2 separate regions of the Homo sapiens genome follow, and region 1 is linked to region 2. A link means that fine-mapping ties the variant in region 2 to the plasma level of a protein whose gene starts in the linked region. Region 2 holds a variant in brackets. A gene starts in the other region. All regions are shown on their forward strands. Region 1 holds the start of VEGFB (vascular endothelial growth factor B). Region 2 overlaps HSPG2 (heparan sulfate proteoglycan 2).

What was found. A credible set is the group of variants that fine-mapping cannot tell apart. PIP is the chance, under the fine-mapping model, that this variant and not a neighbour inherited with it causes the effect. Protein levels are from antibody-based Olink assays in UK Biobank. Linkage for the fine-mapping came from a reference panel and not from the study's own genotypes, which makes the PIPs less certain.
Region 1: VEGFB starts here. The variant in region 2 is the best candidate, but not a certain one, in a credible set for the plasma level of the VEGFB protein (UK Biobank, PIP 0.61).

Annotation. Positions count from the first base shown.
Region 1 is chr11:64,232,260-64,236,968 of GRCh38, forward strand. It overlaps VEGFB (vascular endothelial growth factor B), which reads left to right and starts at 2,325. Exons shown (of 7, transcript NM_003377.5): 1 at 2,325-2,634; 2 at 3,199-3,241; 3 at 3,554-3,750; 4 at 3,995-4,068. The coding sequence starts at 2,575. It overlaps DNAJC4 (DnaJ heat shock protein family (Hsp40) member C4), which reads left to right. Exons shown (of 6, transcript NM_005528.4): 3 at 171-355; 4 at 445-606; 5 at 1,635-1,721; 6 at 1,814-2,022. The coding sequence ends at 1,925. RefSeq lists silencers at 1,873-2,362, 2,583-2,952.
Region 2 is chr1:21,832,736-21,839,611 of GRCh38, forward strand. It overlaps HSPG2 (heparan sulfate proteoglycan 2), which reads right to left. Exons shown (of 97, transcript NM_005529.7): 73 at 6,636-6,815; 74 at 6,090-6,350; 75 at 4,067-4,271; 76 at 2,805-2,902; 77 at 1,944-2,210; 78 at 1,081-1,190; 79 at 732-879; 80 at 533-649. Among named protein-coding and RNA genes, the nearest start is that of LDLRAD2, 24 kb to the left of the region's middle. The variant C/T (reference allele first, on the strand shown) is at 2,166.

The sequences.
Region 1 (4,709 bases), not on the chromosome of region 2:
GCAGGAGTCCATGCTCTCTGGCCTTCTGAGGAGTGGGCAGGCCTGAGTGAGGGTCACTGACCAGGCAGGGCCTCTGGGTATGACTGGAGCCCTGGTGGGTGGATGTCATCAGCATGGGTCCTGGGGAGGGACAGGCAAAGGGAGATAAGGGGAGTCCTGCCCCACCCCAGCTGCACCCAGACCGGGACCCTGGGAACCCAAGCCTGCACAGCCGCTTTGTGGAGCTGAGCGAGGCATACCGTGTGCTCAGCCGTGAGCAGAGCCGCCGCAGCTATGATGACCAGCTCCGCTCAGGTAGTCCCCCAAAGTCTCCACGAACCACAGTCCATGACAAGTCTGCCCACCAAACACACAGGTACAGTAATCCTGCCCTCAGCTTGCCCCACCCCCAGGTCTCTTGGGTAGTCTCATTTCCACAATGTCCCTTCCTCTGCCTCCCAGCAGCTCCTGGACACCCCCCAACGCACAGTACTGGTCCCAGTTTCACAGCGTGAGGCCACAGGGGCCCCAGTTGAGGCAGCAGCAACACAAACAAAACAAACAAGTGCTGGGGTACTGCCTCCTCCTCATGCTGGCGGGCATGGGCCTGCACTACATTGCCTTCAGGTGATGCCTGTTCTCCCCGGGGTGATGGGCAGAGGGCAGGAGGGTGGGTGAATTCCAGTGTGGTCAGCCAGTCCTCCACAGCACCTCGTGGCCCGTACTCTTGTGTCTCTCAAGCTAAGAGCTGCTTGAAGTTGGTCTCTGGAGCCTCTCCTTACTTATTAAAGGCAGCGCTGCACCAAGAGCTAACGTTGTCATTTACAGTTTTTCATATTTCGAATGTAAATCTTTCATGCTGGCTGCCAGGAAGGGATTGAGCCAAACAAAATCAAGCACAAGCAGCAAATGCAGCACAGCTCATTCATTTGGCAGTAGGCATCTCCCTGCCACTCTCACGCGTGCCACGGAGCTGATTCTCTTTATTCTCTTTTTTTCTTTTTTTTTTCTTTGAGATGGAGTCTCACTCTGTTGCCCAGGCTGCAGTGCAGTGGCGCAATCTCGGCTCACTGCAACCCCACCTCTGCCTCCCAGGTTCAAGCAATTCTTCTGTCTCAGCCTCCCGAGTAGCTGGGACTACAGGCGTCCACCACCACACCCGGCTAGTTGTTTTGTATTTTTAGTAGAGATGGGGTTTCACCATATTGGCCAGGCTGGTCTCAAACTCCTGACCTCAGGTGATCCACCCGCCTCAGCCTCCCAAAGTACTGGGATTACAGGTGAGAGCTACCGCGCCTGGCCACAAAGCCGATTTTCTATAGCAGATACCTAAAGGCCAGTGCCCACTGCTAGCAGCCTGCCTAGTTCAGTGATGGAGTTAGACGCATACCCTTTCTAGTCTTCTGGGAGGAGCACCCCCATGTCCACAGCTGCTGTCACACCTCAAAGTGACCAGGGACTTCGGATGCCATTGGACCCTAGACAAGCCAGGGCCACTCTGAGCCCTCCCTATCTATCACAGGAAGGGTTAGACTGAGGTTCCTAACCCTGTGTAAGGGTAAAAAGCTGTGAGGCCCCTAGAGTGGGGTGGAAGGGGGCAGGACTTCAGGGACAGCAGGAATTGGATTCCCAGGGTTAATTGTGACCCATTGCAGGAAGGTGAAGCAGATGCACCTTAACTTCATGGATGAAAAGGATCGGATCATCACAGCCTTCTACAACGAAGCCCGGGCACGGGCCAGGTCTGTCCCTGCTCTATTCTGCTCCCTGCTCCCTGTCCAGGAACCACACTTCGGGATCCCTATCCCAACCACCCAGGTGCCCTCTCCTCCAGGGCCAACAGAGGCATCCTTCAGCAGGAGCGACAACGGCTAGGGCAGCGGCAGCCGCCACCATCCGAGCCAACCCAAGGCCCCGAGATCGTGCCCCGGGGCGCCGGCCCCTGAGGGGCTCACCTGGATGGGGCCTGCAGTGCGTTCCCGCTTTGCTTCCTTCCCTGGACGGCCCGCTCCCCGAAACGCGCGCAATAAAGTGATTCGCAGAGCTCGTGTCCGGCTCCCTCCTTAAGGCCCGACGCCCCCGGCCCCGGCCTCGCCAAGGGGCAGCGCCCCGCCCTCCGGGTAGTGGCGGCGGCGACTGGGGAGCCCAGCCTCCTGGGCGGTGCGTCCCCTTTCCCCTGCCGCGGCGGGAGGCGGGAGGGGGTGTGTGGAGGAGGCGGGCCCCGCCGACGGCCTCGCCCCCCCACCCCGCCGCCCCGCCCCCGCCCCACGGGCCGGTGGGGAGCGCGTGTCTGGGTCACATGAGCCGCCTGCCCGCCAGCCCGGGCCCAGCCCCCCGCCGCCCCCGCCGTCCCCGCCGCCGCTGCCCGCCGCCACCGGCCGCCCGCCCGCCCGGCTCCTCCGGCCGCCTCCGCTGCGCTGCGCTGCGCTGCCTGCACCCAGGGCTCGGGAGGGGGCCGCGGAGGAGTCGCCCCCCGCGCCCGGCCCCCGCCCGCCGCGCCCGGGCCCGCGCCATGGGGCTCTGGCTGTCGCCGCCCCCCGCGCCGCCGGGCTAGGGCGATGCGGGCGCCCCCGGCGGGCGGCCCCGGCGGGCACCATGAGCCCTCTGCTCCGCCGCCTGCTGCTCGCCGCACTCCTGCAGCTGGCCCCCGCCCAGGTACGTGCGGCCCGACAGCGCGCCCGCCCGCCCGCCGTGCCCTCTCTCAAGGTTGGCGGAAGTGAGGAGGCGACCCGCGGCCTCGGCCGAGGGGATCTGCGGGGTCCGGCCTTGGACGCGGGCGTCTCGGGGGCCCGGCGCGTGCATCCCCTGGGAGGTGCCCCTCCCCGCTGGCCCGCCAGCCCCAGTCTGGGGCCACTCCTCCGCCCCACCCCGTCCCCTGGGCACCGCCGGGGGCGGGGCTCCCTCGGTGCCTGCAGGACCTGCTTCGGTGGGCACTGTGCGCGCTCCTGATCTGCATGCAGCCCCCAAACATGCTCGGCTCCGCGGCCTGGAGATTTGGCGCGGCCACCAGAGCACCTGTTGCGTTTTGGGCCAGGGCAGGTCCCGGGTGGCCAGGAGAGGACAGGTAAAGCTAGAGCAGTGGCCGCAGGAACAGAGCAATCTGGAAAGATGTCAGAGAGGTGGTGAAGCCTACTGATGCAAGGGCAAAGCCCCAGGGACGGTGACAGGGCCACACCCTCCTAAAGTGTACCTTGGGTACAGGTCTTTTCTCTCCCACAGGCCCCTGTCTCCCAGCCTGATGCCCCTGGCCACCAGAGGAAAGGTAATACTTACAAAAACTCGGCACTAGCCAGCACTAAGAGGGTTTGTCATGGGCCCTGATTCCAGGTGTCCATCATCTTGTGTAACTCCCCTAGAAGATTCAAACTATTATTCTACCCATTTCACAGAGGAGGAAATTGAGGCAGTGGGGTTACTGGGATCTGGATAAACAGGGCAGGGGAAGACAGGTTGTGAGGGCAGAGTGGGGAGGGCTAGTGGAGGGTGGCTGTGACTTGGGGACTGGGGAGGACAGATGCTGGGAGCAGCTGCAGGAAAACCAGTGAGGACTTAACCCCTACCGGTCTGCTCCCAGTGGTGTCATGGATAGATGTGTATACTCGCGCTACCTGCCAGCCCCGGGAGGTGGTGGTGCCCTTGACTGTGGAGCTCATGGGCACCGTGGCCAAACAGCTGGTGCCCAGCTGCGTGACTGTGCAGCGCTGTGGTGGCTGCTGCCCTGACGATGGCCTGGAGTGTGTGCCCACTGGGCAGCACCAAGTCCGGATGCAGGTACTGGGCAGGTGGGGCAACGGGCAGGGGATGCAGGTACTGGGCAGGTGGGGCAGCGGGCAGGGTGGATGCTGGCTGGCTCTGGGGCTGGGGCAGCCTGGAGACTGATGCACAGGAGACAGGGTTGGGGGGAGGGCTGGTGGCCAGCCTCCCGGCTGTTGGGTGAGCTTTTCTCCCTTCAGTCTTAGAGCATCCCCTTTCTCTCTCTCCCTCACTGTCCCCCCTGTTCTTCTCCTGAGCACAGATCCTCATGATCCGGTACCCGAGCAGTCAGCTGGGGGAGATGTCCCTGGAAGAACACAGCCAGTGTGAATGCAGGTGCCAGCCAGGCCCAACTTCTGAGCTCGCAGAGGCCAGGCTTGGGGGGTGCTGGGTATGGTGGTCCACAGAACTGGGGACCAGGTTCCTAAGAGTAGAACCAAGGGGCCGGGCGTGGTAGCTCACGCCTGTAATCCCAGCACTTTGGGAGGCCGAGGCGGGCGGATCATGAGGTCAGGAGATCGAGACCATCCTGGCTAACATGGTAAAAACCTGTCTCTACTAAAAAAATACAAAAAATTAGCCGGGCGTGGTGGCGGGCACCTGTAGTCCCAGCTACTCCGGAGGCTGAGGCAGGAGAATGGCATGAACCTGGGAGGCGTAGCTTGCAGTGAGCCAAGATCGTGCCACTGCATTCCAGCCTGGGCGACAGAGCAAGACTCTGCCACAAAAAAAAAAAAAAAAAAAAAAAAAAAAGAGTAGAGCCAAGGGTAGGCCTTGGATCTGGGGCAACAAAGTAGGATGCTTGGGCCGGGGGTAGTGGCTCACACCTATAATCCCAGCACTTTGGGAGGCCCAGGCAGGCAGATCACCTGAGGTAAGGCGTTTGAGACCAGCCTGGCCAACATGGTGAAACCCCATCTCTACTAAAAAAAAATACAAAAATTAGCCGCGCATGGTGGCAGGTGCCTGTAATCCCA
Region 2 (6,876 bases):
ACACAGCCAGGGCCTTCTCACTATCTCAGGGCTGGTGCCCCAAACGCAAGGGCCTTACTGAGCGCCCCTAGAAAGAAACTGAATTTGCTTCACACACACTGGAGTCTCCCTCAAGGGGGAGAGGGAGGCAGAGACTCACCCGAGTAGAGAAGGAGGCCTGGACAGTGAAAGTCAGAGACCCGTAAGAGACGAGAGAAAGAGAGGAGGAAAGGGTGAGATGGAGGCAGAGGAGGGAGGAAGGAGCAGAGATGGGGAAAGGAAGCTGGGACAGGAGGACTGGGGGTGATGCCCCGGTGGCAGAGGAGCCACGAGGAGGCTGGAGATATCACAGAGGCAGGGATGGAGAAGCCGGGAGGCACAAGAGAAGGCACACCAGGGTGGAGGCCCAGAGGTCTGGGGGCTTCTGGAGAGGGAGGGCTGAGGGATTGGGGCAGGACTGAGGGGCAGCCAGGGCTCCTGCCATGATGGCAGTTACTCCACGAGGTCCCTCAACCCAGGCCAGCCCACCCCGCAAATTAACCCTCCTGCTCACCATCGGCTGAGTCGGGCCGGAAGGTGATCTTGATCTCGAACTTCCTGTAGGCATCCTTGATGGTGGGCAGCGGTAGGAAGGAGTAGGGGGTCTGCGTGAAGTAGGGCACCACCCGCTCTGCCAGCAGAGAGCACAGCTGAAGACCCTGCCAGTCAGGGAGTGGGCAGGGCACTGCCAATTCTTAGGGGTGGTGTCTTACCTGGCACCTGCAGGTGGGCAAAGGCTTTGACCTTGCCCTGGCGGTTAGTGGCGGTGCAGACGTAGGTACCTGCGTCCTGGGGTCGGACTGAGGGCAGCATCAGCATGTTGTTCTCCAGGCGGCTGTCAGGTGGCAGGCTGCCATCCAGCTGCAAATGCACTAGCACTGAGGGCCCTGGCCTTGGCCCACGGCTCCAGGGGCCCACCTCCCATCTGTGCCTCAGGCCCACCTTCCAACATTGAGCGTTTGCTCTTGGCCAAGCCTGTGCCACATCCTGGGGACACTGAGACGCTTCAGATCTGTTCCCAGCCCCCAAGTCATGCCCGCTGGTTCCCTCTCCAGCACTTACCTTGCTCCAGCTGATGTCAGGAGTGGGGTAGCCTGAGGCTATGCAGGGGAAGACAGCTGCAGAACCAGCAGGCACACGGACTTCTTGGGGCATTGAGATCTGGGGCAAGGCTGAGAGGCATGGAAGAGACATAGGCCATCAACATGACAGTCACAGATATGTGCCCAGCCTGCACCCTGATTCATTTCATCTTCACACCACCCCTTGAAGGAAGCCACTACATTCCATTTCACAGATGAGGAAATTATGGCTCAGAGGGGAAAAGCGGCTGTTTGCTCCTGGTCGGGCAGAGTCAGGGTTCAGGGCCAGATCCATTTCACTCCACAGCCTGAGACCTCTTCAACATGCCTGGGCAAAAAATTGTGCAGCCCTTTGGGGACCTGAGAAGTGCACACTAGGGGCAGTATAGGTAAGGAAGTTTGGAGGCAAGTCACAGGGCTTGGGGTAAAAAGGAATTGCCTTTAAAGAACACACAGTGTTTGTGTCTGCCCTGCATCTGTTGTCCTTGTTTTACTCTCTATTAGGTCTGTTTGTTGACTGGGTTATGTCTCTGCCCTCAGACTATGCTGCAGGTCTCTCCCAGCAGAGCAGGCACTCCCTGCAGATGAGGACAAGGTTTCTTTTTTCTTCTTGATGCTCTATGGCCTAGCTCTCTCCCTGTACATTCCAGGCTGCCCTGGGGGAATCTCACTTTTATCCCCTGCTGCTGCCACCTGTTATGAAACCTGCCCCTTAAACACACACAATGGAAAATGTCCCAAGTGAACAGAAAGGAAGAGCAGAGCGGGCAGGCAGAAGATGGCAGCAGGAGAAGCCCCTGCCCCACTCACTGTCCCCCAACAAAAGTCCCCACTGGCCTTCACCTTGCACAAGCAGCAGGACGTGGGATTGTGTGGTGCCAGCTGCGTTGGTGGCAGTGCAGCGATACTGTCCCGCATCAGCCAGCTCTACGTGGGCGATCCTGACGACACCTCCGCTCTGCACAATGCCTGGCCGCAGGTGCCCTCCAACTTTGCTCCATGTCACCTGAGGCTTGGGGTCACCCAGTGCCAGGCATTCGAACTCCACGGCGTGGCCAACCACCA[C/T]GGTCTGCACAGAGGTCCGGATGTTGATGAGCACCGAGGGCAGGGCTGGGGAGGAGGGAGGCAGAGGTCCAGTGAGATCAGTCACTGCAGGCCTGGCCCGAGGGAGGCCATAGACTGCCCAAGGAAAGGTGAGCACTGAAGCTCCAGCATTCATTCACTCCTCATTCACTTTTTCATGCATTCACTCACAAACACACTCACTTGTCAGGTCTTATGCATTTACTCACTCACGTGTCCACTTCTTTTTTTTTTTTAGACAAAGGGTCTTGGTTGTATTCACAGGTGTGATCACGGCTCACCACAGCCTAGAATTCATGCGCTCAAGCAATGCTCCCAGCTTAGCCTCCTGAGTAGGTGGGACTACAGGTGCGTTCCACCATGCCCGGTTCACACTGATTCAATCTTCATCGGTTCATCTGAGCACTCACACACTCCATCCATATCCTTCTTCCCTCCCTTGAAATATGTATCAAGCCCCTTTTACTCTATGCTAGACACAAGCAAGGCAAAATGGAATAATTCTCTTTATTCTGACACATTTAGGGGGATTCCTAGGGAACAGGGTCTGGGCCTTGTGCCTCTCTGCCTTTCTCATCTCTGTTCCCTGCTCTTAGCAGAGGCCTGAAGCCACCCTCCTACCTTGGATAACCAGCTGGGCACTGGCCTGGGCCTTCCCCCAAGGTCCATGGGCCTGGCATATATACGTCCCTTGGCAGCTCTGGTCCAAGTTCTGGATTCTATAAAGAAAAAATAATAAGACATCAGGGAGTTGAAAACAACTGATAGAATGCTTTGCAATTGGGCTGGGCGTGGTGGCTCACGCCTGTAATCCCAGCACTTTGGGAGGCTGAGGCAGGCGCATCACTTGAGATCAGGAGCTTGAGACCAGCCTGGCCAACATGGTGAAACCCTGTTTCTACTAAACATACAAAAATTAGCCAGGCGTGGTGGCACACGCCTGTAATCCCAGATACTTGGGAGACTGAGGCACGAGAAACGCTTGAACCCGGGAGGCGGAGGTTGCAGTAAGCCGAGATTGCGCCACTGCACTCCAGCGTGGGTGACAGAGTAAGATTCCATCTCAAAAAAAAAAAAAAAAAAAAGAATGCTTTGCAATTGTGTGGGCATTAAAAACTGATGTAGAACAGCACGCAGTGTTGCATTCTAGTTTCCCAATAACCACTAGAGGTAGGCAGGCAGGTTGGGGGGCACCACACTCATTTTAGACAAAGACCTTATGGTCTAGGGCTCAAGATTACACAGTTATCAAGTAGCAGAGCTGAGATCTGGGGTCATTTGTGTATTTCTGGCCCCAGGGCCTGTTCTCTTTCCTCCGCTAATAATAAATATGAATGGGCCACTGTTTACTGAAGGCCTTCCAAGCACCAAGCACTGTGCAAGTGCTTCAGACAATCTCCTTTCAGTCTTTTTTCTTTTTGAGATGGAGTTTTGCTCTTGTCACCCAGGTTGGAGTGCAATGGTGCGATCTTGGCTCACTGCAACTTCCGCCTCCTGGGTTCAAGTGATTCTCCTGCCTCAGCCTCCAGCGTAGTTGGGATTACAGGTGCCCACCACCACACCCAGTTAATTTTTTGTATTTTTAGTAGAGGCAGGGTTTCACCATGTTGGCCAGGCTGGTCTCAAACTCCTGACCTCAGGTGATCTGCCCGCCTCAGCCTCCCAAAGTGCTGGGATTACAGGCATGAGCCACCGTGCCTGGACCTCATTCAGTCTTATATAACCCACTGTACAGCTGAGAACACTGAGGCTCAGAGAGGTAAAGTGATGTGTCCAAGGACAGTGCTTCATGTTGCGCCCCCTGGGGCAGGTGCTTTAACTCTGCTCACTGTGAGCCCTGGGCTATGCTGCCCAAGTCCAGTCCTGCCCCCGGCCCCACTCACCGGAGCACCCCATCCTGCACGCTGTGACCCGGAGGCAGCTGACCCCCTTCCTTGAACCAACGGAGCTGGGTACCCCGGTCGCTGGGCACAGCACAGTGGAACTCAACGCTGGCCCCAATGCTCTTGGTCTCTAGCTGAGGCGTGACCTGCACGGTGGGCGTGGACCCTGCTGGGATGGAGGTGGCAGGGAGAGAGCCGGGAGGGCCTGCGGGGACATGTATGAGGTTCTGCAGGTATATGTGTGTGTGATGTCCCTGATGCCCCTCCAGGGACCCAGGAAACCCCCAGCCCAACATTCAAGGAATGTTCTCCTGATAGCCTCTCTGACCAGGGAAAAAAGACCGTTCAGTGGCAGATTCATTCATCTGCACACACAGCTGCCATTCCACCAACATGGATAAGGGCCTGTGGAGCGCTGGGCTCTGTTTCCACAGCTCCTCGCTTCTGGGTGGGGAGGGCAGGCCACGAAAAGAGTGGGAGGGACTCAATACTTTTTTTGAGACGGAGTCTCGCTCTGTTCCCAGGCTGGAGTGCAGTGGCACGATCTCAGCTCACTGCAACGTCCACCTCCCGGGTTCAAGCGATTCTCCTGCCTCAGCCTCCCGAGTAGCTGAGACTACAGGTGCGCCACCGTGCCTGGCTAATTTTTTTTTTTTTTTTGTATTTTAGTAGAGACGGGGTTTCACCATGTTGCCCAGGCTGGTCTCAAACTCCTGAGCTCAGGCAATCTGCCTGCCTCGGCCTCCCAAGGTGCTAGGATTACAGGCGTGAGCCACCGCGCCCGGCCATACTCAGACATTTTAAGGAAGGACAGCAAAGCCTATTCTGCCTGCAGTTTAAATAAGAGAATCCAGGGACTTGGCCATGGCAAAGACACCTACACATGCAGGGGACAGATGGGAGGCGGGGGCTGATGCATACTGTCCCCATTTACTAAGTGCCTACTGCGAGCCACAGTTTTACATCTGTGTTTACCTCTGTGTACCTTTCCAACTCAGCCTACATGGTTGGCATTGTTCTCTCCACTTTACAGATAAAGAAACTGAGGCTCAGGACGAGTGCAGTGGCTCACGCCGGTAATCCCAGCACTTTGGGAGGCTGAGGTGGGTGGATCACATGAGGTCAGGAGTTCGAGACCAGCCTGGCCAACATGGCGAATCCCCTTCTCTACTAAAAACACAAAAATTAGCCAAGCGTGGTGGCGCGTGCCTGTAGTGCCAGCTACTCGGGAGGCTGAGGCACGAGAAAGGCTTGAACTCGGGAGATGGAGGTTGCAGTGAACCGAGATCATGCCACTGCACTCCAGCCTGGGTGAAAGAGTGAGATTCTGTCTCAAAAAAAAAAAAAAAAAAAAAAAGAAAGAAACTGAGGCTCAAAAAGGTTCAGTGACTTGGCCAAGGTTGCACAGCCAGCAAATGGCCAAGCTGTGCTTTGAACCCAGGTCTGAGTCCACAGTCCAGGCTCTTGACCAGTGGGCTACATGCTGTGCTGCTTTAAGTTTGGGGCCCAAAAGCCCTCATTTGTATCATTGATGCAGGAGGCCATGGAAATGCTGGGCTCTCTGAAGATCCACTGAAGCCCTGGGCGTGCTGGGGTGGGTGCTCCTGTCACTCATTCACTGTTGTCCCTGTCAAGCATTTACCCAGCCCATCCTGGGCCTTGTTGCCCTCAATTAAGCCCAGGGCTGCTGAGATGCCTGGGTCCAGGCCCTGCCCTGAGCATTCTCACTGCCTGGCAGGGGAGGCAGGCTGGGGTGCTTATGTACACAGAATGGTTTCCTTTGGCAGTGCCAGGGCTGTGCCAAAGGTGGGGAGCAGCCGTGAGAGCTAGAGGAGCTGAGCACACATGATGGAGGGCTTCCTGGAGGTGGCAAGCCTGCCTCGGGCCCTGGAGAGTAGGGGAGATGAGGGCATTCCAGGTGGGGTTATGGAGGGAGGCCTTCCCACCCGAGTCTGCCTAGCTGGGTCATCAAAGGGCCAGGAGGAAAGGTGATCCCCTTCCACGCAGAGCCGGGGCTGCTTACCTTGGACGAGCAGCTGGGCAAAGGCCTCGGCTGAGCCCACCTTGTTGGTGACCCGGCAGCGGTAGCGGCCTGAGTCCTCAGGGGCTGCACGCTCAAAGTGCAGCAGCTCGTTCCTGGCGGTCGCCCTCCCAGGAAGGCTGCTGCCCACGCGGCTCCACTGGAAGGTGAGTGGGGGTGTCCCGTGAGCCAGGCACTGGAGCTGCACCGTCTCCCCTGCCTGCACCGAAGCGTGCTCTGGGACCGTGGTGGCATATGGTGGGCCTGAGTGGGGGGACACAGAGGTCAGGATTGGGGAGGGCAAAGGTCAGAATGGCAGCAGGTCGTTGGATCCAGTGTCCAGGGAAGCTGAATGGTGAGCCCAGAGGACTGGGGATAAGGAAAGCAAAGGTCCCAGGCCAGGGTGTGGGTGTCGGGCAGGGCAGGCTCCAGGACCCTGCAGCGCCTGGAGACCTCTGGATGGGGTTCCTGGGGTTCTGTGTGGGGTGGAGCCTAGTCGGGGGGCTCAGATCTCCATTTGGTGCAGACAAAGAAGGGATGAGGCCTTACTCTCCACGTGCAGGATGATGGTGGCCTCAGCGTGCCCAGCAGGGCTAGTGGCATTGCAGATGTACTGGCCCGAGTCCTGCTGGGCTACCCGGGGTATGATGAGTGTGTCACCTTCCAGCCGGTGCTGCCAGGGCAGTGGGGAACGCAGCTTGGACCAGTGGATGGTGGGCGCGGGGCTGCCTGTGGAGTCGAGTGGAAGATGACAGAAGTCACTGGGCTACCTCAGGGACCCGCAGAGGGT